Homo sapiens: one gene and its partners. The protein of the gene in region 1 interacts with the protein of each later gene in a pairwise test. Each region holds a gene or a part of one and is shown on either strand. Other genes may lie near its edges.

Region 1 (7,540 bases):
AACAGGTTTGTAGTCTTGGAGCAATAGGCCATACCATTCTAGGTTTGTGTGAGTGCACTCTGTGATGTTTACACCACGAAGAAACTGCCTAACAACACATTTCTCAGAATGCATCACCATTGTTAAATGATGCACGACTGTATTTGGATGGAAGCAAAGGAAGAGGTTTTTTTTGTTTTTTGTTTTTTGTGTTTTTTTTTTTTGTTTTTTTTTTTTTTGAGATGCAGTCTCACTCTGTCGCCAGGCTGGAGTGCAGTAGTGTGATCTCGGTGCACTGTAACCTCCGGCTCACTGCAACCTCCGCCTCTCGGGTTCAAGTGATTCTCCTGCCTCAGCCTCCCAGGTAGTTGGGACTATAGGAGCACACTGCCACACCCGGGTAATTTTTTGTATTTTAGTAGAGACAGGGTTTCACCGTGTTGCCCAGGCTGGTCTTGAACTCCTGAGCTCAGGCAGACCACCTGCCTCAGCCTCCCAAAGTGCTAGGATTACAGGCATGAGCCACTGCACCTGGCCAAGGGAGAGGTTTTTTAATTCAAAGCCTAATATTGGCCATTCTGTTTTCTTGTTAAAAAATTTACAGGCTCTGGATTGTAACATTCCAGTGTGTGAGTTAATAGTTTTAAAAATAAAAAGGATGTTTCTGTATTGGCTCCTTCTCTAAGGAGATGTAGAATATGCCAGAGATGGCAAAGTATAGATATCATCCATATTCATATTAACATTAGAAGAGATGTAAATGTTGCAAGTAAAAATTAGAGAGGTTAATCATATCTAGAAAGAAAAGCAAGAGATTGAATATTCTAATAAGCTTGGAATTTTAAATAAATTTAAAAAATAAAGTTTGCCTTAATTTGGGCCAGTAAATTAGAGTGGATTTTAGCTTGGGTTTCCTAAAAATAAAGCCTGAGATGAGGATTTAGAGCTTATGCTTAATTTGAGAGGTACAATCTCTAGGCAGTGAGAGTGGCAAGAAAGGAAAGTGATTCAAGGTGGGACGAGAAGCAATACAAAGTGATGCGTTTACCCTGCTGGGCTCATTTCACAGTGAGCTGACTGTTGGCTATTCAGCAGGTACAGCTACTCTACCACCCAAAATACCTCTGGACAGGCAGTACAAAGAAACTGCACCTCAACCCAGCCTGGAAGGGAGGATTTATCTGCCTGGCTTCCTGTCAGCTCCTGTTTCCCATTGGTCAAAGTTTGCCAGTGGGGATATAACCAACCCCACAATTCTAGGTTATAACATTCCACTCTTTCAGCAGCCACCTCGAAGCCAAATCTAACACCCAGTAATACAACTTTTCAACCAAGTTGAGAATTAGAAAATCCAGAACTCAGAGTACGCCTGTCTATACTGTGGACACCATGGAAGAAGAGCTCCTTCTTTGACAGGCAAAAGTGAAAGCAGGGGAGAGCAGTCAGCCATGGAGGTGGTAGCCGAGGTGGAGCATGCTGAGAGGGTCTGTGAGATGGCGGCACCACAGGAATCTGAGGAGCTGCAGAAAATGTTTCTGATAAGATGAATTAGATTTCAGAAATATGTTCTACCCTCTCAAGCCTTGTGTTTTATACTGGAATCCTAACCTCAGCCAATATTTCCCTGCCCTGAAAACTCAGTGCCATGACACAATCTCAGCTCACTGCAACTCCACCTCCTGCACTCAAGTGATTCTCCTGCTTCAGCCTTCCTAGTAGCTGGGATTACAGGTGCGCACCACCATGCCTGGCTAATTTTTGTATTTTTAATAGAGACGGGGTTTTGCCATGTTGGCCAGGATGGTCTCAAATGCCTGACGTCAAGTGATCCACCTGCCTCAGCCTCCCAAAGTGCTGGGATTATAGGCATGAGCCACCATGCCTGGAAGGCTAATATATATTTAGTTTTAGCAATAAAAATTCTTGAATTTTTTTCATTTTTTTTAAGAAAAGATCTCTTCATGCCTTTGTCTATTTTATATTCAAGTATTGTTAAATCTAATTACTCAGTGAATTACATGTTTCAAAACTACCTTTCTAGGCTATAGTTTGTTGTTTTCATCTTTTTGCATACCGTTGCCAAATGGAATGGATTCCATTTCCTAAGTCTTTACTCATTTCCCTCTGTACTTGCAAAACTCTATTTGGCTTCTCTGTCCTTCCTTTATGCCTAAAGGGACAGAAATACACCTGAGAAGAACAGTAATGGTAACTTCTATAGCCCAAAGAGTCCTTTTAGGAACTAAATTTATTTGTCCCCTCTTTTTATGTACAAAAGGTACAAAGTATAACAATGTGTATTTGATATTTCATGTTCATTGTTTATAAGATGTGATTTTAAAAACATGACGTAAGTAGTCCATGTTCTTTGTAGAAAAAATGGAAAATGCAGATGAAAATTAAGACACTTCCACACTTAGATATAAGCATTGTTAGCATTTTGATATATTTTTCTAGACCTATATATGTATTTTTATAAAAATAGTATCATACAGTTTATATTCTTTTATAGCCTGCCTTTTTTTTGGGAGGGCAACTTCATGACTTTATTTGTGGTACCTGTGCTTTATCTTGAAAATACCTTCTCCCCCTGTCCCAGACAGCGGGCTGGGAGGGGGCAGCAAAAAATAGAAGACTTCCCTCCCTATTGCACATGGACCCTATGTACAGGCCCACCCGGCTGAGGCCAGCAGGCCTCTTGGCACATTCTTGGATCCCTGCTCAGGAGGGGAGGGCTGACGGGGTGCTATCACATGTGAGATCGGGAACTCTGGGCGGCCACTTTGGTCCTGGGTACTGATATTTGCACTTCTTGGTCCTCAGTTCCTTCCTGGTCCTGTCTCTGGCCCTAGTCCCCTCTGTATAGCCTGCTTTTTATACTTGATGATTCAAATCATTTAAAATTTTTGCACAGTATTCTGGTAGTTGGTGATTCTATAATTTATCTTATTTCCTGCTATGAGACATGTAAGCTGTTTGTAGTTTTTTGTTCAATAGAAGTAAAAGTTCATTAGAGAGACATTATGGGTCTAAATAAGTACCTAAATTCACGAAGTTTTTAGATGCTTCTGTTACAAGTAGAGGGTCATGACTGCAAGTTGTCCAGGTTCTTGGCATTTTGAACAAATAATTGGACAAAACGCCCATCAAAGCAAAGAAAGAATGAAGCAACAAAAGAGCAAAAGCAGGGATTTATTGAAAGTGAAAGCACACTCCACAGTGTCGGAGCAGGTCCAAGCAGCGGCCCAAGGGACAGGATACAGAATCTTCTTGGGTCCAAATACCCACTAGAAGTTTCCCAATGGCCACTTCATGCTCACCTTATGTAAATGAAGTGGTATCCTGCAGTCAGTCTGATTGGTTGGAGAAAGCAGCCAACCAGAGGCTGAAGTGAAGTTACAAAGGTCACGCTCCTGTGCAAACATCTGATTGGTTGCAAAAAGCAACCAGTGAGAGGCTAGGGTGAAGTTACAAAGTTATACTTCTATGCAAACGAAGACTTGGCCTGCAATTAGTCTGATTGGTTGTGGACAGCAAATTTCCCATCTGCATGCAGAAAAGGTGAGGGGTTTGCAAAGGCAGTAGCCCCCGGTGCTTTTGTTACTTAGGTGTGGAAAGTTAGGGTTTTCCTTTGAATTTAGTTCTGGGAAATCGGAGTAAAACAGCCTTAGGTTCCCTGCCACCAGACCCTATTCTCTTGCTTTACTTCTTCCATTTTGTTTCAAAGCAGTCTACCCATCACTTTTTTGTATTTGTCATATTTACATTCCCCTCTACTACTGTGGATAGTCATGAGTGGACTGTTCTGACCTGTGCTCCTCAAAGTGTTGTCCAGTTTGCTACCAGACCTCTGCAGGATAAGAAGGTTGTGCCTGAATATAAACCAAGACATTGCTTAGTTCTTTGAGAGATTTTGGCTACTCCCCCACCCCACCCAAACGCTGAACTAAGGAGTATATTTTTAGTGACAATTGATTTTCATTCCACTGCAAAATTCTTATTTCATCATAGGTGGCTGTCAAGCACTTGCAGACTATCACATTATACCCAAGGTTTTTTTAAGTTCTGGGGCACATGTACAGGATGTGCAGGTTTGTTACATTGGTAAACGTGTGCCATGGGGATTTGCTGCACTTATCAACCCATGACCTAGGTATTAAGCCCAGCATGCATTAGTTATTTTTCCTGATGCTCTCCCTCCTCCTACCCCACCTAACCCCGACAGGCCCCCAGTTTGTGTTGTTCCGCTCCATGTGTCTATGTGTTCACGTTGTTCAGCTTCCACCTATAAGTGAGACATGCAGTGTTTGGTTTTCTGTTCCTGCGTCAGTTTCCTAAGGATAATGGCTTCCAGCTCCATCTGTGTCCCTGCAAAGGACATGATCTCATTCTTTTTATGGCTGCATAGTATTCCATGGGGTATATGTACCACATTTTCATTATACAGACTATCATTGATTGGCATTTGAGTTGATTCCATGTCTTTGCTATTATGAATAGTGCTTCTGCCCAAGTTTTTTTTTTTTTTTTTTTTTTGAGACAGAATCTTACTCTGTCAACCAGGCTGGAGTGCAGTGGCATGATCTCAGCTCACTGCAACTTCCGCCTCCTGAGTTCAAGTGATTCTCCTGCCTCAGCCTCCTAAGTAGCTGGGATTACAGGTGCCCAGCACCACGCCCAGCTAATTTTTGTATTTTTAGTAGAGATGGGGTTTCACCATGTTGGCCAGGCTGGTCTCGGACTCCTGACCTTGTGATCCACCCGCCTCAGCCTCCCAAAGTGCTGGGATTACAGGTGTGAGCCACTGTGCCTGGCCATGCCGAAGTTTTAATGGAAGTTAAATATAAGGAAAAACACCTGGGCCTGGCTCAGTTACTGTTAACAACTATTAATTACTTATTCTGAGAAGATGTGAGGGATACACATTGCTGCCCTCAAGGAGCTTGAAATCTAGTTGAAAACTATAATAGCACAAGAACAAAGACAACTCTATGAAATGGAAATAACATAGCATAATTACTATCTGCCTATAGGTTACTACTTGCCCATAGCAAAATGGTGATTTTGAATTTTTGAAAGAACACTTTCCTTTCAGAAATGCAGAACAAATGTATTCACTTAGCAAAAAGTTATGGAATAACTACTATATGCCAAGAATTGCACTAAATACTAGGCATACAAAGATGGTTAAGACATTCCTCATACCCTCATTTCACTTGGAAAGAGGCAGTCTTAGAACAGAAGTCAGAATTAGCTGTACCAAGAAGAGCAAAGGTCTTCTAGGCATAGGACAACAGCAAGTGCAAAGGAAAAAAAAAGTGGTTTATAAATTGTTTGTTACTATTTTGAGCTCTGGAAAAGGGATATAAAGCCAATAATTTCTCTGGAAATACTTTCAAGGACAATATGATACCTAAGGAATAATCAAAAGTAGAAAGTAGGTAAATTGAAAAGCTGTAGAAAAACAGCTATTATATAAAGTAGAAAGAAGAAAATAATATCATTTGAAAACATTAGCTAAAATTGGATGCACAATGTGTAAGACTGAAAATAAAGCTAGTTTCATGTTCAAAAGCCTATGTATGCATCATAAAGTAAAGCCGACTAGTATATAAGCAGGAAATATTAAAAGTGACATTGAAGGGTATCTCTTGCTTATTAAGGTTATGATTGCAAGTTTCTTTGGAGTATCTAATTAATTTGTTTTATGCTAAATGAAGTTCATTAATAATTTTCATCAGTTACTTTAATATAATTTTTAAACATCTTAAGTTTTGTAAAAATGGGCTATTGCTACAAAATGAGAAAAGTTCCCAAGGTGTATAGTGAATATTTGTGTTTTGCTTTTCTTATATAGAAACTGTTGAAGTTTGAAAATGAGTCATAAATATCTATAGAAAAGAGTAATATCCCATAGTAATGTAAGATGTGAAAAAAGAAAACAATTGATATTTTCCTTTTTTATATGAGGATTTTCAAAATGTTAACTAATTTTGTTATTAATCATTTGGCTTTCTTGAAAAGAGATGCACTTGCAAATTTGTTACAGCAGATCAAGGAAAGGAGTTTTGCAACAGATGTCTGAATCGGAAAACTGCCTTGCAGAAGTAAAATAATCCAATGAGTCATAACAATAGTATTGTTAATATGTGCTTTGGGTAGAGGGTTTTCAGTAGTATATTTTTTCCCTCCTGCTCTCGTCTTTTTTTGTGTTGTACCAAATAAAGAATCAAGAAATGAAGTAACTAAAATGTCTAATTCTGGAGGGTGTGCTCACAGTTCACCACATTTCATTTAGATCATTAACTTTTTAAAAGCTTCAGATAGGCCAAGCTGTATCAATGCTGTCCCATCAGATCTATCACATTCATTATTAATACAATATTGCCCCCATCAGCATTGGTCTTGCACTGTGTCTCTTTTCACTTGGAAAGTATCATTTGCAAGTTACCTGAAATGTTTTTCATTTATTGACCTCATGCTGGTATGTGATTACCTTTTCCACTTCACATTGTTATGAGCTATTTGTGTCACATTTTACTACATCGTAAGTTTAAATATTTTTAAGTAACTTTCTGCCAGGATAAAATATGTGCAAGGGTAGAAAATTTTTTCCTTGCTGATTATTTAAACAGATTTGCAAGCCATTGACACTAGCTTATTTATGAGAACACTAAGTATACTCTGGAGTATTTCTGGCTTTCTGTTTAGCTTATAGTTATGATTTTATTTTATGTTTCCACATATATTTCCTGTGGTTTTTTTCTTATTTATATACACTTATCTACTAAGTTGTTAGGTTTTATGTGTACTTTACTGATACATTTGGCTACAAAGTTGTTAGGTTTTCATGTGTACTTTACTGATACATTTGACTACTAAGTTATTAGGTTTTTATGTGTACTTTACTGATACATTTGGCTACTAAGTTGTTAGGTTTTAATGTGTTCTTTACTGGATTACTTTAGTTTAATGAAAGATACTGTTTCAGAATTCCAAACATCATTAAAGCATTTCAATCATGGGTTAGTAGGTAAGGGAGGTACAGGTTGATTGATTGATTGATTGAGTTTCCATTTGTTGCTGGTAATGAATTTTATTTCAATAATCAAATAAATTGAATCAAATAAATCAATAAAACTGAATATTTACTTTATACTTTCAAGTAGTATAAGAATGTGCAATTGATATAATAACCTTTCTCAAATGAATAATGAAGATTTTTGTTTGTTTTTTTTTTTGTAGGATGGAGTGGTTCTTGTTCATTGTAATGCAGGCGTTTCCAGGGCTGCTGCAATTGTAATAGGTTTCCTGATGAATTCTGAACAAACCTCATTTACCAGTGCTTTTTCTTTGGTGAAAAATGCAAGACCTTCCATATGTCCAAATTCTGGCTTCATGGAGCAGCTTCGTACATATCAAGAGGGCAAAGAAAGCAATAAGTGTGACAGAATACAGGAGAACAGTTCATGAGTTGCATTGTAGCAGACAATGGACAACTGTAGTTTCTGAATTGACTTCTATAGCCATCTTTTCCCTTTTTTGGAGAGTAGACTAGCAA
Region 2 (7,540 bases), about 150 Mb from region 1:
GCCTTTCCTTGCTGGACTATGTTCTTTGTAATAATATTGGAATCATCTTTCATCATCAAAGGAGAGAGATGCCTTTGTCTTTGAGAGAGGGAGAGAGAAAGGGGGAGGGGAGAGAGGGAGAGATAGAGACACACCACTCCTCACTCCTGCCATCTCCTGCCCCCGAAGTCCTTGAACTTGCCAAGTGCTGGGCTCCCAGACTCCCTTTGCAAAGTCCCTCTCCTTTGCATGCATACAACTTTCTCTCCTTAAGCCTCAGGAAGGTCCAGTGGGAGAACCAGGGCTGTGCCTCTTCCCAAAGTGTGATGCCACGTGTCCCCCACTGACAGCAGTGCTGCTGAGAATCTCAGGGCATGAGGGCCAAAGGCTCTGCCTTCCTAGGTGGTGGTGGGAAAGCCAGTGAATCTGATGCCTGTACCATGGCAGAGATGCCTGGATGCCTGGCAGTGTTGGCTCTAAGGACACAACCTCATCTTGATAGTTTACAGCTTCCCAGAGGGGACCACTGGATAAGCAGTAAGTTGGAGAGGGCACTGAATCAAGAGTCACAAGGCCTGAGTTCTAGTCCCAGCTCTTCCACTTCCTGTGTGGCCATGGCAAGTCCCGTAATCTCTCTGGGCCACCGTTTTCTCATCCATAGAATTGGGGAGAGACCTGCATTGTCTGTTCATAGGGTGGTGTTGAGAAATGTGAAAGGTCTGAGGAGGATGCCAGCTGATGAGGGCTCTTATGAGACAGACAGGTGTAGTCTTTATCTCCCTGCTCCCTGCCCAGTCCTCCTGCCAGGTATGCTCAGGTGCACACAAATTCCTCTTCTCAAGGGGTAAGACAGTATTCTTCTTAGATACTGAGATGCGTCACCCAGTGGCTAAGGTGAAGGTATTTTACATGGATCCTGACTGAAGGTGGAGATCAGAATAGCTATGACCTTGCAGGGCTTCCATCACCACTTTGAGTCCCTTTGAGCAGTGTGGTCAGGTTGGGCTTTCTGGAACCACTGGCTGTCAGTCTTCCCTCCTTTCCTGGGAGCGGGAGGGTGGCCGCTGCTTTTACTGTGCAAGTCTTCCTTGTGATCCCCATAGTACAGTGGTTCGTTGAGGAAGCCTGGATCCTAACCTTGGGGCCTGCTCAGCTCCAGTTCCTGGTATCCGGGGCCTGCTGAAGACCTGCAGACCCAAGCATGGGCAGCTGGGCTCTGGGTCTGCCCAGGGTGCTATGTTTAATAATTTAGAACCACCTTTGAGATGTTCTAGTCCAATCCTCAGATCTCACCTGTGAGGATACCCAGGTTAAAGGTTTAAGACTGCCCTAAACTACACGGGTGTCTAATGGCCAAGTTGGAGCTGGAGCTTGGGATTCCTGGGTCCACCCTGGGTATCTTCACTTCCCAAGCTCTGTTAACCATAAGATGTGTGTAGCACCTTCCTAAATATACGGTTGGAATGTCCAGGTATTATTATCCCTACTTGAGACGTGAGGACTGTGGGCTCTGAATGAGTAGCTGCAGAGTGACCTGCCCAGGTCAGTTGCTTGAGTAGTTACATGGCTGTCATGAAAGTTCTCCTCTGTGTTTGTCTCTAGTTTGGTTTTCCAGAGTCAGCAGGCCATGAGAATGGATCCAGGCTATAGAATGTGGATATGGTTTGGATTTGTGTCCCTGCCCAAATCTTACGTTGAATTGTAATCCCTAGTGTTGGAGGAGGGGCCTGGTGGGAGGTGATTGGACCATGGGTGGATTTCCCCCTTGCTATTCTCATGATAGTGAGTGAGTTCTCATGAGACCTGGTTGTTTAAAAGTGTACAGCGCTTCCCCCTTCATTCTGCTCCTGCCATGTAAGACGTGCCTCCTTCCCCTTCACCTTCTGCAATGATTGTAAGTTTCCTGAGGCCTCCCCAACCATGCTTCCTGTACAGCCTGCAGAACTATGAGCCACTTAAATCTCTTTTCTTTGTAAATTACTCAGAGTCAGGTAGTTCTTATATAAATGCAAGAATGGACTAATACAAATGCATTGCAGGAGCCTTGCACAAGCTCCTTGGGGCTGGGGCTCAGCCATCATCTACCTCTATCTTCTGTCCATTCTCTTCCAGCCAGTCAGTCACCCCCCTGTCCAAGCCTAAAGTTGACACCCTGGGTTCCATCGAGGAACTTGCTACCCAGGCTGCCCACTCTTGCTCCTTCCATCCTTGCTCCTGTCCTTGGCACAACAACTGCAGCAAAGACTGGTTCTCACTCACCGGGCGAGGGCGGGTCTCTCGGAGGAAGGACTTGAGGTCTCCCCCCGCCATGAGCTCCAGCAGGATGAACCGGGGCAGGGATTGCAGGCTCACCCCAATGCAGCGAACAATGTTCTGGTGGTTGAATTTGCTGCAGAGCAGAGAGGGATGTAACCAAAATTAACTGAGCTGAGTCTGGGCAAATCTTAAACTGGGAGGAACAGGATACAAAGTTACATTTTCAGCAGCTACAATGTATAAAGGCATTCTGTAAACATGGGCAGCAGGGGTCCCGGGCTGAGCCTAAACCCAGAATCTTGCTGGTGAGCAGGTGGGAAGAACCACAGCAGGCTCCACAGGAGTTCCATTTGCAGGAGAGTGGCTGGAGCTGTGAGGATGTTGCTCAGGCACTTGGGTGAGGAAGTGTCTCAGGGGGCAGGAGAGTGTCTTTCTCAGATACTGGTGCGTGGACTGGGTGCTAGAATTCATGGTCGATTTCTCCCAGGAAGGCCTCAGGCAGAAGGTGAAGCAAAACAACTGCTTCCAAGAGAGACTGGGTGAGACTTGCCAAGTGACAGCGTGTGAAACAGAGCCAGCAAAAGGGGATGGCCTCACGAGTCTATCAGTTTCCCGTGGATTCCTCATGGGAGGGACCAAGACTTGGGTTTTCTTGTTAACATGATCCCTTTAGGACACACAGGGCAGTAGGGCCTAGGAATTCCACATGGGCCAACATGCATGTGTGTGCATACACACATGTACACACAGCCCCCCAAGTGTTGAAAGACTGGGTGATTAGACACCAACATAATAATGGTTAGTTACCACCAAGTAGTGAGATTTGAGTGATATGGGTCTTCTTCAATATAATCTCATACTTGCCAAGTTTTATTCATAATCAGGAATTATATGTATCATCAGAAAATAAATGTTATTTTGTGTGTCCTCCTGTGGTTCCAGACCTCACAGCCATATCACTCACACTGCCTGGCCTTGTTACCCCTGCCACTTCCACCAAGGGGACATCCCAGTCTGCCCCCACCTGTCAGGACGTTCAGAGTCTTCCCAGTGTGACAGGGGGCCATGAGCCCCCACCTGATCTTGAGGTCAAATATCTGCCCCCTCCTTGAGGGGATCTGCTGTCACAGCGGACGCCCTCAGGAGCCATAGGCACTGAGACTCTCAGCTTAAATCCAGATCTTGGAGCCTCAAGTCAAAAGGTGCAGCCAGCTGAGACTCAGCCCTGCTGATGGGAGCCTAGGATGGGGTGGCCTCCCATCATATTAGAAGCACAATTACTGGGATTGGTGAAGGGTCTTGGAGGGAGATTATATCTTGTACTGTCAAAGTCTAGCATGCTCCATTTCTTAAGAAAAAGTGAGGGAAGAAGAACCAGTGGATAACAGCAGGGATACTGGTTGCAGACAGTGACATCGGTGGGATTATTAGGCCACACAGACTTTGTTTCTGAAACAACCATCAAGGGTTGTTCCATTCTGGTAAGAAGTGTCTAGAATGTTTGGGAGTCTCCTACTGGAGAAAAGGGGACATGCTAGGGACAACACGATTTCCCTTGGAGATATCGATCTGTTAGAAACCTCTCCAGGTTCTTTGGGGGCAGAGGGGAGTTGGGGTGAGGGTGTCTCTCTGTGGCTTTACCTGATGATCAGGGCTTCCATGAGGAAATCCAGTTCGTCCTGTTCAGAGCACACTTCAGGCAGCGTCTGGGCAGAGAAGGGGAGGGTGGGGAGGAGGAGGAGGCTGTGAGCTGAGAACTGCAGCCTACAGAGTCCGCAAGCCAAGGGCAGGCTCAAGAGTGAGCCACTTCTTACCTTCACAGCCACTTGCAGGGGGCTTGGGTCGTTGGGCATTCCGGACACCTGGCCTTCATACACCTCCCCAAAGGCGCCATGGCCCAGACCCCTGTGCAAAGGAGAAGACAAGAGGAGACAGAGTCAAACAGGCCACAATAATGAGGCAGCTGGGGGTCCTGAGCCTGGGCGTCACATTTAGTGGACAAACACGAGAGGCGGGGGTAACATACACACTCAGGAGTAATACCCTCAACATGGCTTTGCTATGCAATCTCGGGCTTCCAGTTCTTCACCTGAAAACTGGTAAGAAGGATTCCAACCAGGGACTCATGACAATGGTCAAATGTTTATTCATTCAATCAGTAGTTATTGAGTCTCTGATATTTGCCAGGGACACAGGGGTGCATAAGCCATGGCTTTTCCCCGGGGGAGGTTCATGCTCCTTGGGGAGAGACAGATCACTGTGGGTACTGGCTGGGGAGTATTTCCAGTGAGTGACAGAGGAAGGCGCAGTTGCTCTAGATGCTCAGAGGAGGGGCCCTTTGCTCCCCTGCTCCCCTGGAGGGAAGGGGAGCCAGGTAGACTTGGAGAGAGCACATCTGAATGAATTTTGAGGAGAGCCCTGGTTCTCCTCTCATTGTATAAACTCCATAAACTATGGGAGTTAATGTAAGCCAACATACATGGCCCTGAATGTCAAGGCTTGTCCTCCTAGGAGGGCTAGGGGTGCCCATAGGGAGGGCTCTGCCGGCCTTTTGTGGCTAGAGGAGTCTGCGGTGCTGTGATAACATTCAGCCCCTACACTGCACCCCTCTCCTCCCAGGACGGCAGCAGGGCGCTCACCGAATGAGGGTGATGTTTTTCCGCGGCACCTCCTTCAGGTCACTGATGGAGGAGGTCTTGCCAGCAAAGCAGTAGTTGGGGTTGTAGTCGGTCATGATGGTCGAGGTGCGGAGCTTGCTCAGCTTGTACTCAGGGCTCTGCAGCTCCATCTGCATGGCTTGCAGCTCCTGGTGCTTCCGGCGGTACACTGCAGGTGGGTGGTCAGCTGCAACATGGCCTGGCAGCCTGGCCCTTGAAGCACTACACAGGCCACTTCCTACAGGAAGCCTCCCTGGATCTCCATATCCTCCCCTGAGCTCTGAACCTTTCCATCATACTTAGAAATACTAATAAAATGATTAAAGAAGGTGTGTCTTTAATTGAAGCATGATTTAAAGTAAATGCAAAGCTAAAAATCAGATATATGGAAAATAATTATTTGTATTATATAGGGCAGAGTCATGTTAGTCTGGTTCCTCCAAGAAGCAGACTGGAGATGGGATTAGACCCAATATGGTCTGCAGATTTTATTAGAAGAAATGCCCATGAGAGGAAATGGGGAGGGAGCCAGGGAAGGCTGGGTGAACCAGCAGACTGTGTTGCAAGTATAACCCCACGTGAACGAGGGAGGGAGGGAAGGTTGGGTGGAAGCACCCTGGGTGCCATGGAGCCTAAGGAAGTTTCAGCAAGGCCCTAAGGGGTTCTGGAGCCAAAGTCAGTCATCAGAGGAGTCCCATGACTCCCAGGAATTGGCCTGCCTTAGTATTTCTGCTGTGCTCAGCCATTGGGTAGGGCAGCTTCAGTGCAATCACAGCAGTGGATTTGAGGGTGCAGCTGGGATCTTGGTCAGTTGTGTTTCCTATAGTTGGAGAACTGCCAAGCCACAGAGTTGGAGAAGAGCCACATCATGAAAAGATCTCTGAATTGGTGTCTGGGGATCTGTGCTCTAATTCCGCCTCTTGTTACTTACAAGCTGAGCCATGAGGACCAGGTCACAGGACCTCTTTGGACTGCAGTTTCCCTCTCTGTAGGCAGGGATGGTAACTCCTGCCCTGTTTCCCTAACCACTGCCACTCCCCACCCTCTAGGGTTGTCAATGAAATGAATTCACCAACATAAAATGGTTTTGAAAAATCCTAAAGAGCTCTACCAATGTGAGTGACCATTATCACTCCTACATGTGAGGATGTTCTGGAAGGCAAACTCCATGGAAGCCAGAACAAAATTGTGATTCAGTGGGTAGATTCTGTGTGTAAAGCCCAGCCCCCCAACACATGGGCCAGGGCAAATGAGTCACCCGCTATGTGCTCAGTTCCCTCCTCTATGCAATGGACCGACCGTGATCAGATTAGGGTTACCTGAGGATCGAATGAATTGAAATGTGTAAATTGCCGAGCACGTAGTAACCATGCAACAAGTGTTAGCTCCTATTATCCTGTCCCTTTGAGGGATGGCACCATATGGGGACACAGTGTGTGCTGCCATCTCCCTTCTACCGGCAGATCCCTTTGCCTGCAGGGGCCTGGCCTGCGAGGGCTCTCAAGAGCCTTTCCCTCTGCCCTTTTCAAGCCTCTGCCCATCTGTCCTGGGCATGTCTCTGCCAGCAGTAAGAGCTGGTTGGGACCACACTGAGTTCTCTGTGACCTGCAGGTCAGCTCACCTTGGCTCACAGGCTGAACAGAAATATACTCAGAAACCGATTTTCCTATCTCTCTGCCTGGAGGGTGGTGGAGGGCTGGTTTGGGGAAGAGTGGGCTAGTGCATTACATAGGGTGGGAGCCAAACAGGAGCTGCGCCGGTGGAAGCATGTGGGAGCTAGAAGTGACGTCTAGGGGTGGGGGCGAGCTTTCACCATCGTGATGGACACTGAAGGAGCTCCCCACCCCCTGATCAGCCAGGAGGATACACACGGGGCTGAGGTGCAGAATCAGGGGCTCCTCAGGGAACTGCAGCTGCTCTGGTGGGGGGAAGGTTGGGAGCTTCCGTTTTGGCTTGGCCTGGGCTGCCCTAATCACCACCCCACCCAATTCCAGGGACTAGCATAACGAAGTGACACCTTGGCACCTGTGGCACAGCCTGAGACACTATTCAGTCCTGCCTTCCTGCCCCCTTGGGAGTCCCTGGGGCTCTGTGCACTCACCAATCATGATGCCGGAGAAAGCCAGGACCAGGGCGGCCACGAGGGCAGAGGTCACCACAGAGAGGATCAGCGAGAGTGGCAGGTGTGGCTCCGGGGTGGGTGACACTGGAAGACAGGTCCCACTGGGGTATTGACAACCACACCAGGTCTCCTTTGAGTTGGTCCCAAGTCAGAAATAACCTCCCCCACTGAGACAAAAACTACTTGCTCCTTCCCATCGCTGGAGACCTTGTCACACTTTTCTTTTCAGGGGACCATGAGCAGGACCAGACTCATCCCGATTTGACAGGCTTTTAGCAGTAGCTTTTGGGTGAAGGGAAATTTAACAGGGATGAATATCAGTGGCGGGATGTTGGTTTGAAACATGAGCTGCACAACTATGGGGTGAGGATGGAAGGTGAAACGAAAGTGGATCTGGAAGAGATGTGGGGGCCGCAGGTGACCAAACAACAGGGTGCGCTGTAAGTAACACCCTCTGAGGCTAAGTTACTTCCTTGTGGCCCTGAGGCACTGGGCTCACAGTGGGGAGGGGTCCTGTGCCCTCTGC
Region 3 (7,540 bases), on another chromosome or scaffold:
TAATCCCAGCACTTTGGGAGGCCAAGGTGGGCAGATTGCAGGTCAAGAGATTGAGACCATCCTGGCCAACATGGTGAAATCCCATCTCTACTAAAAATACAAAAATTAGCTGGGCGTGGTGGCACGCCTGTAGTTGCAGCTACTTGGGAGACTGAGGCAGGAGAATCACTTGAACTGGGACGGGGAGGTTACAGTGAGCTGAGATCACACCACTGCACTCCAGCCTCAGTGACAGAGTGAGACTCTGTCTCAAAAAACAAAACAAAACAAAACAAAAATTAGCCAAGTGTGCTGTAATCCCAGCAACTTGGGAGGCTGAGGCAGGAGAATCACTTGAACCTGGGAGGTGGAGGTTGCAGTGAGTCCAGATGGCGCCACTGCACTCCAGCCTGGGTGACAGAGTGAGACTCCATCTCAAACAAACAAACATAATTAAATTGCTGTGAAATACTCCAGGCCAAAACAAACAACAAAACAAAAAGAAGTAACAAGTGGGAAGAGGGAACAGGCGTCGAGATGAAACAAAAATGACCAAAGGCTGAAGCTGGGAGGCGGCTAACTATGGGGTTTTGTTCTGTGTTGTGAATATTTGACAATTTTTCATAATAGGATGAAAAATATAAATATTCCCATCAAGTGGCTTGTTGCTACTGCCTCGTCTGAAACTATAAGCCTCAATACCCAGCTCCTTTAAAAGCCAATAACTGACTGGGCAAGGTGGCTCACACTTCTAATCCCAGGACTTTGGGAGGCCGAGGCAGGAGGATCACTTGAGGCCAGGGGTTCAAGACCAGCCTGGGTAACACAGCAACGTTCTGTCTCTACAAGAAATACAAAAATTAGCTGGGTATAGTGGTGCATGCCTGTAGTCCCAGCTACTCAGGAGGCTGAGGTGGGAGAATTACTTGAACCTGGGAGGCGGAGGTTGCAGTGAGCCGAGATCATGCCATTGCACTCCAGTCCGGGTGACAGAGTGAGACTTCATCTCAAAGAAAAAAAAAAAAAAAAGCCACACATGGTGGTATACTCTGGTAGTTCCTTCTACTTAGGAGGCTGAGGCAGAAGGATTGCTTGAGCCCAGGAGTTTGAGGCTGCAGTGAGCCATGATCACCCCACTGCATTGCACTCTAGCCTGGGTGACAAAGTAAGACCCTGTCTAAAAAAAAAAAAAAAGCCAATAACCATATCAAGGAGCATTTTATACAACCTCACTGCATCAGCCTATTAAAAGCAAGAGGTCTGATTCACATACGAATTCACATTCCCAAGACACACTCACTGGTGGCATCTGTCTGGACATAAATGATGTCACTCTTGGCCCCATAGGTCCGGCGTTCATCCGAAAAGGTGACCAGGGTCTTCACAAAGATGGCATACTGGGTCCAGGGCTTGAGACCCCGCATCAGCCACCCTGGGTGGTTCTGTGATTTGGGGTCGTTGGACCTCAGGGGTGGGTCAATGTCTACCACCGTCCAACTGTTGGAACCACACGCATCCTGCCCGTCGAACTCCGTCACATTCTGATAAGGGCTTTCAAGACAAAACAGCAGAAGGCAGTTACCCTTACAAGACCGTCACACTGAGTGCCGTGCAGATGAGGCCTGGGAAGTTACATCCCATAGGGTCACATGTTACTCACCCAACAATCTAATGCCACAAGAAAAAATAACTCGGGAACAGCCAAAGAGAAAGGAACTGTCAACCCTGACATCTCAATGAAAAAACACAGCTTGGGCATCCCTTATTCAAAACACTTGAGACTTGGCCAAGTGCAGTGGCTCACGCCTGTAATCCCAGCACTTTGGGAGGCCGAGAATGGCGGATCACCAGAAGTCAGGAGTTCGAGACCAGCCTGGCCAACATGGTGAAACCCCGTCTCTACTAAAAATACAAAAATTATCTGGGCATGGTGGCAGATGCTTGTAATCCCAGCTATTCAGGAGGTTGAGGCAGGAGAATTGCTTGAACCCGGGAGGCAGAGGTAGCATCAGCTGAGATCGCACCACTGCACTCCAGCCTGGGCGACAAAGGGAGACTCTGTTTCAAAAACATAAATAAATAAATAAATAAATAAATGCTTGGGACCAGAAGTGTTTTGGATTTTGGATATTTTGGGGTTTTGAAATATTTGCATTTTACTAGTTAATTTGCATTGTACTGGTTCAGCATCTCTAATCTAAAAATCTGAAATCTGAAATGCTCCAATAAGCATCTCCTTTGAGTATCAAGTCGGCCCACAAAAAGCTTTGGATTTTGGAGCATTATAAATTTCAGATTTTCAGATTAGGGATACTCAATCTGTAATAATAGTAATAGCAGGAGCTCCCTCACAAGTTACTGATAAGATTAGACTGTGTGTCAGTGCTCAGCAAGGCACAAGGTAAATCTTGAGGGCTAGAACTATTATTAATATTACTACTGGTCAGGTGCGGTGGCTCATGCCTGTAATCCCAGCACTTTGGGAGGCCAAGGTGGGCAGATCACCTGAGGTCAGGAGTTTGAGACCAGCCTGGCCAACATGGCAAAACCCGTCTCTATCAAAAATACACAAATTAGCTACGTGTGATGGTGTATGCCCATAATCTCAGCTACTCAAGAGACTGAGGCAGGAGAACTGCTTGAACCCGGGAGGCAGAGGTTGCAGTGAGCCAAGATCTGCCACTGCACTGTACCCTGGGCAACAGAGCAAGACTCTGTCTCAAAAAAAAAAAAAAAATTGGGGATAAAAAAGAAAAATAGATAAGCAATACATTTGATAACATCCACTTAGTAGACTGAGCTCCTGACTACTAAGGATGTCTGATGAGACATACACAGGCAAGGCAAAATAGAATATTGCCCCAGGAAACTGGCCAGTCCGGGCTTCTATGGGAAAGCTGTCTGCTTCCATTTTAGGCATTTGATAAAAGCAGACACTATTGACTTTGCATGCCATCGACTGGTGAGATTGTAAAAAGGAACCTAAGATATTTATTCCAGGAGGAGGAGGGAGATAGACAGGAACCCAAGAGGGGCAGATTGGAGCACAAACGTAGCAAGCACAGAGCCAGCCAGCCCTCGCCTCCTCAGCGTCTCTCTAACTCTTCTACTTACGCCTCTTTGTAGAACAGCATGAACCCCAAGAGGTCTCGGAAGTCGGGGGGCCAGTACGGCTCCCATCTCAGCAAGATCTTGTCAAAAGATGTCCGAATGTAAGAAAATTTAAGTAACTCATTTTCACCTGGAAAAGTTAAAACAAAAGGCAAAAATGAGCTATTTCAGTGTAGTTTCAGACCAAAGCCTGGGACCCCCACACTTCCTGGAGGGACCGTGAGAAGGCAGAGGTGACGCTGCTATTCCCTTAAGGGTCTCCTCCCCATGTGCCTGGCTGAGTATGAATGGGGGAAGATTCAAAGGTAAGAGCCAGTTTTGCAACTTGGCCACTCACACTCACGTAAGCCAATGACTTGACTCAGCCAGACAGTCAACTGAATAAGCGCAGTCTGTACCCGCGCAAGAAGGACAACCGGCCAATAGTTATTGGAGGAAGGGATTTCCAAGGGTGATGTTTGTCCTGACACAACGTTGTCTCGCATATGGACTTGTAAGACTGACCTGGAAGGAGGTGCAACTCCAGTGCAAATAAACCTATGCCAAGTGAGTTTAGAGACCCTGCAGATCATTAGACATCGGAGAGACGCATCTAAGTAATTCTCTCTGCCTAGAAGACAAACCCTCTCCTAAACCTCACCCCAACCTCGCTCTCTCTCCTTGCACTACATTTTTTTTGAGACAGTCTTGCTCTGTCACCAAGGCTGGAGTGCAGTCCACCTACCGGGTTTAAGCAATTCTCATGCCTCAGCCTCTCAAGTAGCTGGGATTACAGGCACCCACCACCACGTCCAGCTAGTTTTTGTATTTTTTTTTTTTAGTAGAGATGGAGTTTCACCACATTGGCCAGGCTGGTCTCGAACTCCTGACCTCAAGTGATCTGCCTGCCTCGGCCTCCCAGAGTGCTGGGATTCCAGGCGTGAGCCACCATGCCCAGCCCTTGCACTACATTTTGACATAAGTAACTAACTCCCCATGAAGGTATCCCAGAAGCCCTTGGCAGCTCACTGTTTAGAATCTGTCAGGGAAGTGCAGTCAGCAGGCAGCCTGCAGCTGCAGAAACTGCAGGACCTGCTGTAGCATTCCAGCCAAAACCTGACTCTCCCTGGACAGCCCCCACCTATGACTGAGCTTGGTAGATGCCTGGCCGTCCCTTTGCAATGCAGAACTTCCCTGCAGACAACCGTGGCCTTGATCTCTTTCTGGGTTTGGCCAAGACTCAGGGATGCATCACCATCTGAGACTCTCCCAGCCCTATCCTCCCTCCTTCCCGCTCTCTGTTCACAGAGGTCAGACACACGCTATTGTCAAAAGGCTCTTCATGGCTGAGCGTGGTGACTCACACCTGTAATCTCAGCACTTTGGGAGGCCGAGGCGGGAGGATCACCTGAGGTCAGGAGTTCAAGACCACCCTGGCCAACATGGCAAAACCCTGTCTCTACTAAAAATACAAAAAAAAAAATTAGCCGGGCTTGGTGGCATGTGCCTGTAATCCCAGCTATTCTGGAGGCTGAGGCGAGATAATTACCTGAACCCAGGGGAAGGAGGTTGCAGTGAGGCAAGATCACGCCACTGCACTCCAGCCCTGGGTGACAGAGCAAGACTCTGTCCCAAAAAAAAAAAAAAAAAAAAAAGAAGCTCTTCCTCTGTTTCATATTTTATGAATATTACCCTCAATACATTTTCTGCACTCCTAACTTCAACTTGGCAGTCACTTCCCAGGAGATGCAGACTGACATAGGTATTTTACTCAACTTTGAAGTCTTCAGCATCAGCCTGATACACATATAAGAAGGTGTCATCCATTCATCCATCATTCATTCATCCATTCATTCAGTGCTTGTATGACTTCATCCCGTATCCGGTACTATATGGCACAGTAAGCATAGTGATAATATTAATAAATGTGCAGAATCTGCCCTCAGTAAGAAAGCCTATCACACAGTGAGTTGTTAGAGGGAAGTAATACCCCCTGGGGGTGACTGTGATGGATGAGAGAGGACAGCCACATTATCTGGTTTGTGGACCACTTACAGCAGGGGTCCCCAGCCCCTGGGCCACAGACCAGTACTTATCCATGGCCTGTTACGAACAGGGCTGTACAGCAGGAGGTGAGTGATAGGTGAGCAAGTGAAGCTTCATCTGTATTTACAGTCACTCCCCATCGCTTGCATGACCACCTGAGTTCTGCCTCCTGTCAGATTAGCGGCGGCATTAGATTCTCACAGGGGTGTGAACCCTATTGTGAACTGTGTACATGAGGTACCTAGACTGCACACTCCTTATGAAAATCTAATGCCTGATGATCTGTCACTGTCTCCCATCACCCCCAGCTGGGACCATCTAGTTGCAGGAACACAAGCTCAGGGTTCCCATTGATTCTACATGATGGTGAGTTGTACAATTCTTTCATTATATATTACAATGTAATCATAATAGGAATAAAGTGCATAGTAAATGTAATGCACTTGAATCATGCTGAAACCATCCCCACCCACCACCAGTCCATGGAAAAACCATCTTCCACTACACCGGTCCCTCATGCCAAAAAGGTTGGGGACCAGTGACTTACAGGATGCCTGGTCCCCATTGGTCTTCAGGGCAATGTCGTTTCTCTCCTGGCGCCCCTTGGTTCCTGAAACTTCTTCCATCTTGTGGATTTCTGACAAGCAGAGTTTGGGGTTATAGTGGAAGAAGAGTTTCCCCTGAGTGATGGTGAGGTTGTGTTTGCTCCAGTCCCAGAGCTGCCTTAGGTTCTGGTTGTCCAAGGCATAGAAGGAGTAGTTCCTATGGAAAAAACACACACATCTAGTCATTCAACGGCTGGTCTTCTACAACTCCAAGATGGTGTGGCCATGCTCGGAGTTGATCTTGTTCAGTGCTACGTGCCTAATCCTCTCCACTTGCTTGGCACATACTCAACACATATTTGTTGAATGTGGATAACAGAGGAAGTTGAGGAAGTTTTCATGGCCAGGAAGGAGGCTCAGCTCAGTCTTGAAGAGGGGTGGTGAGTCTGTGATGGACTGAGGAATAGGTTTTGCAGAAACCAATTTCTGCAAATAGGGGAAATACTGATAACACAGAGGCACCTAAGCTGAGTTCAGGGAAGAGCAAAGTAGCCTGTTTTGGCCAATAGGTGACAGGAAATAGCTGTAGTTGCAATGGACCAGACCCTCTAGTATATTGCATGCCAGACCAAGACCAAGAACATGTGGCCATCCTTAATAAGGAGAAAGGAGCCATTGAAGGTTTTTGTTTGTTTGTTTGTTTGTTTTATTGAGATGGATTCTCACTCTGGTGCCTAGGCTGGAGTACAGATAATATAGTCTAAACTATATTGTTTAGACCACCTTCTCAAGTCACTTACCAGCTCATGTTGATTAACATGTCCTTTTGTCCCTTTCCCCATTTGCTGTCTGTTCTACAGATGTGAGGCTGGGGCTGAGGCAGCCATCTTGTGACCATGAGGAGCACAAAGATGGAAAGAATCTGGGTCTTCCACAGACCTCCTGCCTATGAGTCAATCTTGATCTAGCTAGTTTGAGTTTCTGCTGTTTTGCTAATAGAGTTTCTAGGACCTCAAGGAGAAGGTTGGAATATACTGGAATATACTGAGATGGAGTCCATCCCAGAAATTAGGATGGACAACCGGGACTAAGAGGGAATGTTCATTTTATGCATGCCAAACTCTACTCACAATGCAGCCCAAACAGCAAATTTAGCAAAAATTCCAGCCTGTACCCTTGGAGGATGGGCACCAAGGTTGGGCTGCTCCCACTTTTGTTTCTCAAGAATGACTATAAAAAAGCTTTTACAATTTTTGGCTGGATGGACCTTTAGGCACATTCCAAGTTCTTTTTTCCCGAGGTTTTGCCAGATATACTTTTATTTGTTTTTTATTTGTTTTTATTTGATTTTTAAAAAATCCTTAAGTTTTTCCTTTTCTTTTCTTTTTTTTTTTTTGGACAGAGTCTCACTCTGTCACCCAGGCTGGAGTGCAGTAGTGTGATCTTGGCTCACTGCAACCTCTGCCTCCCAGGTTCAAGCTATTCTCCTGCCTCAGCCTCCCAAGTAGCTGGGATTACAGGCATGCACTATCACACTTGGCTAATTTTTGTACTTTTAGTAGAGACAGGGTTTCACCATGTTGGCCAGGCTGGTCTTGAACTCCCCGCCTCAAGTGATTCACCCACGTTGGCCTCCTAAAATGCTGGGATTACAGGCATCAGCCACCACACCTGGCCAAAAAAATCCTTAAGTTGTTCTAATACACGAACTTCCTAGTTAGCACTCAGGCCATACACACAATCAGGCCCACGTACCCAATTTCCAAGGTCTCTCCTCGAATCAGACGTAACTTCCGGAAGAAGGAAAGTGACACCAGAGCGTAGGATCGGCGGATTTTTAGATACCCTGAAATTTCTTCAATGAGGCCGAGGTTGGCTTC
Region 4 (7,540 bases), on another chromosome or scaffold:
TCCTGCTGGGTGCTCAGAGACATGTGCTTCCTTCTCCCTCCAGATGATGCAATTACGTGTCCAGAGGTCTTCGCTCTTGAGGGAGGTGGGCAGGGGCCAGACCCATCCTGTGTCCAGCTTGGCCAGCTGATGGAGGATGGGTGCAAGGGAGGCTCTGAGCCTCACTCAGGCGAGGTGAGGCCAGGGATTGGCTATAGCTGAAGGTAGGGTTCAAGTTCAGAGCAGGGCCCTGAGAAGGGGTACAGGGAAGACCTGGGCAGTGAGGGGTGCTGTAAAGGAGGTTCCTCATGGCTGAGGCTGGGGGCTGTGGCTGTGCAGGGGACCTGAGGCTGGAGCTGTACTCACAGACTACGCTGGGCAAACATCTTGCAGGGTGTCCAGGGCCGCCAGTGCCACTGGATGCTGAGAGGCAGGGGCACCCCGTAGGCCGTGCAGGTGAGGGCCTGGCGGCTGTGACGCGAGTAGATGCTGGGGGAGGAGGCCTCCTTCTCATGTATCTGGGGGGGCACTGTGGGCACACAGATGGCCGGTCAGCTGGCCTCCAATGCCAGGCCGCCCACCCGTGCGCTCTCCCGTCCCTGACCTACCATTCACCACCAGCTCCAGGCTGATGTTGCGCCTCAGGCCAGCAGCGGAGTTCCACAGGGCGAGGGTGTAGGTGCCTGTGCTGGCCTCTGTCACCTCCTTGAGCACCAGGGCATGTGGACTGTGGCGCCCGGACAGTGCCTTTCCATCCTTGTACCTGGCCAGGGAAGGGAGGTCAGGGCCCATACAGATCCCACCACAGCCCCAACCTCATGCTGGCACCCCCACCCCAAATACAGTTGGGAGGAGGGAGGGGCTGGCAGGAGTGCAGGGTAGGACGGGGAACACTGGTCTGCGAGGGGATGGTCTAAGTCCCTGGAGATGGTCTCCAGGCCGTATCTGCCAGGTGTGACAACCGTGTCAGGCGGCCGGCTCGGGCATTGGTCACTGAGGTCTGCAGTAGCACCTCCTGCCTTGCCCCAAAGCCTCTGAACTCTCCACAAGTAGTGAGATGACCATGTCACTGCTGGGGCAGCCGCCTTCTCTCCCTGCCTGTGGCTGCAGACAGCCTTCTTCAGCCAGGCTTGCCCAGCCCAGCCCAGGAGGGTCCCACACACCTGGTTCCTCCACCCAGCTGGGCACGGCCTGGAGACCCCGTCCTCTTTCTTAGACACCTGAAGGAGTGGAGGTGCAGTCCCTGCGAGCACAGTCTAGCTCCTTGACATGTGCGTGGCCCCTGCAGACATGTGGGCTTCTTGCTGCCCACACCCCGCCCCCAGGCCTGGCTCTCACTGCCTGCCTCGCTGGGACACTCATTTCTGTAGCCAGGAATCTGCAGGGTTCCCTGCCTCCTTCATTTGGGTGGGGGCGTGCAGCCTTCCTGACTGTCCTATGCTGTGGCCTGCCCCTGCCTTGCTGTGTCTGTTTGCCCATCGTCCCCCTGGGCTGGGAGCCCCACGAGGGCAGTGCTGCCTCCTGCAGAGTTGCGCCCAGATGCCTACATGTCTGCTGCACACGTGAGGAAGCAGATGCCTCAGCCCCAGAGGGTGTGCTGGGGCCCCTGCAGGCACCTGTCTCTGTGGCCTGGACTCTGTATGGAGATGCTCCTCCTTTGGACAGGTGCCTGCCCCTGGTGCTGGGTGTGGCAGGCCAGAGATACACCACTGTGTCCTGGGAGAGGCACAGCCCTCGGGCAGAGACCAACAGAGAAGGGGAGGCAGGGGCCCATTCTCAACTTGGACATCACAGCAGGGGCCCGGGGGGAGTGCCTGGCCTGGGGTCGCAGAGTGAGGCAGGGCAGGGCAGGGGCGGAACTGAGGTGGTGCTGTCTGCATGGCTCTGGTCCTGAGTCTGCCACTTGCTGGATCTGAGACTCCTTCATTGCCTCAATGGAGATGACATGCACCTTGCAGCTGTCGTGAGGTTTAACCCGGACAGTGACAGCAGCGTGCTGGACACACTGCGGGTGCTTCGGAAGCCAAGGACCAGCCCATCTGTGTGTTTGCTAGACCGTCCACCCAGTCAGTGCTCGCCATCGTCATGTGCTGGTGCCATAGGAAGGGTGGGCACCACAGGAAGGGTGGGTGGCTGCCATAGGAAGAGAGCCAGATGTGGCAGGAGTGAGCCAGTGGAAAGCTGTTCTGAGAGGCAGCTGCCTGAGGACTGGGTAGACCCTGGACGCAACAGAGCTGCCACCTGCCCAGAGCAGGCTCAGTAATGGTGGCCTTGGAGGGCAGGGGACAGGGCCCAGGGGTCTCCAGGAGCTGTACCCGTGAGTGAGGCTCCAGGATCTGCCAGTGCCCTCAGGACTCTGCCCCAAGGGCCTTGGCACTGACCAGGTGCCTTGGATGGACACCGAAGTCTGTGTCCTCAGTGGGAGGGTCACACTGGGCTCAGGGCCAGGACACCCTGGGCCTTCCATCCCAGGAGAGACGAGCCCCCAGCCAGTGCAAGGGGCCCTGGCTGAGGAAACCCTGGGCCTCTGCTTGCCCAGCTCCAGGAAAAGTTGCCCTGCCAGGAGGGAGGTGCCCAGGCTGAAGAGAAGGAGGCTCTTGGGCTAGCTCAGTGCAGAGACCCCTCCTGGGGAATTGGCGATCAGTTAGGAATACCCTTTCCTAGCCTCTGCTTCCTCGTCTATGCAATGGGGACTCAAAGTGTGACTGACTGTGGGTGAGCCATGTGGATGACTCAGACGGCCTGAGGACGTGTTTGTGAGGGGTGCCATGCCCCCCCAGAGCCTGCAGGGAGTAGCCAGCGGAGACAGGGCCACCCCTGAGGCCTCCCTTCTCTGGGCCGCAGCACACGCTTGCAGATCGGGGATCTGCGGGGACTCCAGCAGCTTGTCGGCCTCCTGGAAGCTCTCTCGCTCGCTGCCGTGCAGCACAGGCCCAGCCCAGGCAATCTGTCAATTCCCTGTGGCATCTCCAAATTTCTGGACAGAAGGGTCCTGGGAGAGGCAGCCTCGCAAAAGGAGGCATAGGGAACGCTAAGCCATTGCTGCAGGGCAGGCCCTGGAGATTCTGCAGGGCAGAGAGGGGCCCAGCGGTCAGGAGGCAGTTAGGAAAAGCCCCTCGCTGTGCCCACCACACCCACATGTAACAGAAGGCTGGTACTGAAACCTTTCACAGTGTGGCAGGAACAGACAGACCTTCCATCTGAAATATCACATTATGGGCGGGTTCCTTGGGGGGTCTCCTGAGAGAGGCCCCCGCCATGCCTGGTCTCCGTGTGCAGGTCCTGACGGGGAGGACGCTGCCCGTCTTCCCCTATGGTCTGTTTTGCCCCTGGACTTGGAAGGGTATCGGCGGGGTCGGTGGGGAGCCAGGGCTGTTACCACTGGAACTCGGGCGGGGGGTACGCTGCCAGCTTCACGGGCAGCTTCACCAGCTCGTCTCCTGCCGTGGCCTCCAGGATGGGTCCTTTGAGCCACTCGACGCTGATGAAGGGATTTTCTGCCGGACAGGAGAAGTCACTGTAAATCCAGGACTGACCCGTCGTGGACTGACCAGGGACTCCCCCCACGGCCCCTGCAGCCCCGGCAGCCGGACATCCGCAGACTGGGGCTGGCCATGCCGCCCGGTGCAGGAGCTGGGCAGCTCCTCTGCTCGTGGCCCTCCCTTCCCTCTGGCTGGACTCCTGAGTGCTCAAGGGCACCGTGAGCTCTGGGCCCAGGCCCACAGGGCACAAGGACCCTGGTTTCCCAGGCCATACCATGCACAATGACCTCGGTGCTCTCCCGAAATCGCTGGATGCCGTTGTTGGCCTTGCACACATACGAGCCCAGGTCGTGCTGGCTGACGTTGTGGATGGTCAGGATGCTGGAGAGTTCTGTGTGGGTCTGCTGGGAGCGTCGCTCGGGCACCCACTTACCCCGCTCTGCCTGCCCGCACCCAGGGAAGCCCCGCGTCAGCAGGCGGGCTCCTGCACAGCTACCCCACCGAAGGCACACCTCCCAGCCCAGCCAGCGGTGGCTCCGGAAGCCCTGGACCCAGGCCCTGAGTTTTCTTTGGGTGGAACACTTGCCACTCAGACCGGGGCCCCTGGGGCAGGCCTGGGCCCACACATCCTCCACGCGGAGGCCCAGTGTGTGCTGTACAGTCACAGGGACTCCTGGGGACAGGACAGCCTGGCAGCGCTGCTGACCTCACCTGCTTCCCTGGGTAGTCCCAGTCAAAGGTGACACCTGAGTTAAACTCAGCCCACACGGTGCAGTTCAGGACCAGCTTCTCCCCTACCAGCAGCTCCAGCGACTTCCTGGGCAACAGCTGGATGTCATAGAGCTCGTTGCCTGTTGACACGCACACAGTGACTCCCACGCCCTCACAGGACGACACCCACTGAGGCCAGTGAGGCAGTGACAGCCCCGTTACTGGGAACGGGGCACAGCCCTGTTACCTGTGATGTGCACCAGGAAGGGGTTGGAAAGGAAGTCCTGGTCTCCCCAGGTGGTCTCGCACTGCAGGTACAGGGCATCGTGCAGCAGTGGCGTGGACACGAGCATGCCCCGCCGGTCATCCCACACCACCTCCTGCCCGTCTGGCCACAGCACCGAGCTTTGCTGGAGGGACAAGGCCACCATCATTGCCCAGCTGCCCCTTGCTCCTGGCCAGACAGGCGGCCGCCTTTCCCAGGGGTGGGATGGGAGGGTCGGATGCTGGGGTTGGGGTGGGGCCGTACCGAGCGCAGCGTGACATTGAGGCCGGGGATGGACACCAGACAGGGCACCCACATGGCGTCCTTCCTGTTGACCAAGAGCGTGTCAGGCTTGTTGATGAATGGCTGCTCAAAGTCTATGGAGAGGGAGCAAGCTGTTGGGGAAGGGACGTGGCGGCCAGGCTGGGGGAGGGCTCCACGGGGCTGGGTGGTGCTGGTCCTGAACCAGCCACCCGCTGGAGCAGGTAGGGCCCCGTTCTCTCCTCCTGCCAGCCCAGGGTCCACAGGCTGGGGGCGGTGTGGGCCCCAGCTGCCCGGGACCCTGCTCCAGCCTGGCCCGCCTCCAAGTCTCACCTCTCACGAACACGTAGGAGCTGGCGGCCGTGGTGCCCTCGATGCGTGCCTTGATGTACTTGTAGTAGCAGACGTAGCTGCCTGTGTCGTTGGCATGTACCTCGTGCAGCAGCAACACCTTGCAGTAGGGCCTGGCGTCTGTGCCCTCGCAGTCTCGCACCACCCCCGTGTCCTCGCTGTCCTTGTCTCCGGTGGCTGGCGCCTCCTGAGCTCCTGGCCAAGCCCACTCGAGGGGGTGCTGTCCCCTGGCAGAGGACAGGAGTGGTCAGGTGGGCCCCAGGGCAGCCCATGGGGACTGTCCCTGAGAAGCCTCCCTCAGGCCGAGCCTCACCAGGTTTGTCTTACCCAGAGCATGGAACTGCCCAGGGTTTGGGCGCACACTACAGACCGTGCCCAGGGCAGGGCACTCCCCGACCCCCGGGCCTCTACCAGGCTCCCGGGGCTGGCCTGTGGCCAAGCACAGGCCTTGGATCACAGCTGGGAAGGTGGGGAGGTACCCATCTCTGGGGCCCCAGTGGGTGCTCCCAGGGTGGCTGGGAGTGGATGCAGATGACCTGGGAGGTGGCCTGGGGTCAGTGTGAGGTGTCAGGAGTGGGGTGCAGGGTGATGAGGCCCCATATGAAATGCTGATGGGGTGGGCTGGGCACAGTGGCTCACGCCTGTAATCCCAGCACTTTGGGAGGCTGAGGTGGGTGGGTTACGAGGTCAGGAGATCAAGACCATCCTGCTTAACACGGTGAAACCCCGTCTCTACTACAAATACAAAAAATTAGCCGGGCGTGGTGGCGGGCACCTGTAGTCCCAGCTACTTGGGAGGCTGAGGCAGGAGAATGGCGTGAACCCGGGAGGCAGAGCTTGCAGTGAGCCGAGATCGCACCACTGCACTCCAGCCTGGGTGACAGAGTGAGACTCCATCTCAGAAAAAAAAAAAGAAATGCTGATGGGGGTGTGTGGTTGAGGCTGGGGAGGACCGAAGTCACCCACAGCCTGGGAGACCACACGGCCCCGAGGCCACTCTGCCCTGACTCTGCCCTGGGAGGGGGCTGCCATCTGGGCCCACAGCCACCACCTCCTGCCTTGGGCTTGTGCAGCCTCTCTGGCCTGCCAGTGGGAGAGGGACCCAGTACCTGCAGGAGATGGACAGGCTGTCACCGGTGTCGATGACGTGTGACTCCTCCGTGATGTTCAAGGTCGGGGGGGTCATGGAGTAGCCACTCACCAGGCCTGGGGTGGGAGACAGGGTCAGCGTGGTGCTGGGCTGTGACTTGGCACGACGTTGATGGGGCATGGCTGGGCATTCTGCATCGCAAGCGCAGACCCCTGCAGGGCCGGAGCAGCTCAGGTTCTCAGCCAGCACCGCGTGGCCTGGCCTCACCATGTGCGCCGTGAGCAGCACCAGCTCCCAGGCGCCAAGACAGCCACGAACCTCTCCCACAGGCGCACCCTGCCTTGCCCCACAGCCCCCATCCTCAGCTACACACCGGCCCTGGACCTAACCCCAACCTCTGACCCCGGTGAGCTGAGCGGCTGGCATGAAGGAGCGGGGGAGGGGCGCTGGAGTGTGTCACCTCCACATCACGGCCCCTGCAGTGCTGCTGCCTGAGGCCCTCCCTCCTGAACTGCAGCCCTACACCCGCTGCTTCCCAGAGGGTCCGCACATCCCAGGTCCTCCCCGAACCACGCAGGCCTCGCCCCCTCCTGCCTGCTCTCTGCCAGGGGCCTCGCCCCCTCCTGCCTGCTCTCTGCCAGGGGCCTCGCCCCTTCCCAGGCCACGTGGTGTCACCTCACAGGTGTCCTTTCGCTCCTCAGCTTCTCGCACCCTCACAGACCCTGCTGGCTGCCCCAGCCTCCTCCGGGCTCTCCCTGCCCAGGCCTCCCTAGACACCCCCAGGTCTTCTCACAGGGCTCTTCCTCAGACATACAAATAAACCCGCCTCATCTGGCTGAAACCCACCATCAGCCAGAGACTGTAGGCTGGCCGGGCTGGGCCTTCTGTCCTGCAGGACTCAGCCCTGCTGCCCCCACACCCTCCTCCCCGTGAGGTGGTGTGTGTGTGTGTGTGTGTGTGTGTGTGTGTGTGTGCACACGCGTGCCTCCATGTGCATCTGTAACTGTAGGCCTGGGTGTGTGAGTCTGTGTGTGCCTATGTCTGAGTGGTGTGTGTGGCTTCCTGCGTATGTGCAAACATGCATGCATGTTTGTGTATCTCGGACATGCTGGCGTGTGTTCACACATGAGTGTGTATGTGGTGGGATCCCGGTGTGGGTGGGAGCAGGCCCCAGGGGAGGTCTGGGTCTGGAACTCTGGCAGATGCATCCTGCCGGGGCCATCCTGAGACAACAGGAAGGGAGGGCTGCATGGCCAGAGGCCCAGGGCTGCGTCCTGTCCCTCCCCCAGGTCCCTGTCCTCCTGGGGGCACAGCCCACTCTTCTGCCCCCAGGCCCCTCCCGTCCAACACGTCCCTTGGGGTTTGAGGCAGCAGTAGTCTAGCTCCCTGAGGCCCCAGGGT

What was found.
Region 2: the proteins of DUSP19 (region 1) and ALK interact in a two-hybrid assay, tested with the Homo sapiens proteins (one study listed by BioGRID and IntAct).
Region 3: the proteins of DUSP19 (region 1) and INSR interact in a two-hybrid assay, tested with the Homo sapiens proteins (one study listed by BioGRID and IntAct).
Region 4: the proteins of DUSP19 (region 1) and FLT4 interact in a two-hybrid assay, tested with the Homo sapiens proteins (one study listed by BioGRID and IntAct).

What each region holds. Positions count from the first base shown.
Region 1 is NC_000002.12:183,088,207-183,095,746, forward strand, and holds part of DUSP19 (dual specificity protein phosphatase 19), read left to right. Parts: intron 1-7,224; coding exon 7,225-7,452; 3' UTR 7,453-7,540.
Region 2 is NC_000002.12:29,218,468-29,226,007, forward strand, and holds part of ALK (ALK tyrosine kinase receptor isoform 1 precursor), read right to left. Parts: intron 7,099-7,540; coding exon 6,994-7,098; intron 5,357-6,993; exon of another isoform or gene 5,062-5,356; coding exon 4,875-5,061; intron 4,141-4,874; coding exon 4,050-4,140; intron 3,942-4,049; coding exon 3,877-3,941; intron 2,369-3,876; coding exon 2,239-2,368; intron 1-2,238. UniProt on the Homo sapiens protein: Neuronal receptor tyrosine kinase that is essentially and transiently expressed in specific regions of the central and peripheral nervous systems and plays an important role in the genesis and differentiation of the nervous system.
Region 3 is NC_000019.10:7,164,875-7,172,414, forward strand, and holds part of INSR (insulin receptor isoform Long preproprotein), read right to left. Parts: coding exon 7,416-7,540; intron 5,878-7,415; coding exon 5,663-5,877; intron 3,221-5,662; coding exon 3,094-3,220; intron 1,531-3,093; coding exon 1,280-1,530; intron 1-1,279. UniProt on the Homo sapiens protein: Receptor tyrosine kinase which mediates the pleiotropic actions of insulin.
Region 4 is NC_000005.10:180,625,524-180,633,063, forward strand, and holds part of FLT4 (vascular endothelial growth factor receptor 3 isoform 1 precursor), read right to left. Parts: intron 6,352-7,540; coding exon of another isoform or gene 6,256-6,351; coding exon 6,159-6,255; intron 5,277-6,158; coding exon 5,032-5,276; intron 4,815-5,031; coding exon 4,702-4,814; intron 4,583-4,701; coding exon 4,420-4,582; intron 4,313-4,419; coding exon 4,173-4,312; intron 3,905-4,172; coding exon 3,736-3,904; intron 3,477-3,735; coding exon 3,359-3,476; intron 743-3,358; coding exon 588-742; intron 509-587; coding exon 346-508; intron 1-345. UniProt on the Homo sapiens protein: Tyrosine-protein kinase that acts as a cell-surface receptor for VEGFC and VEGFD, and plays an essential role in adult lymphangiogenesis and in the development of the vascular network and the cardiovascular system during embryonic development.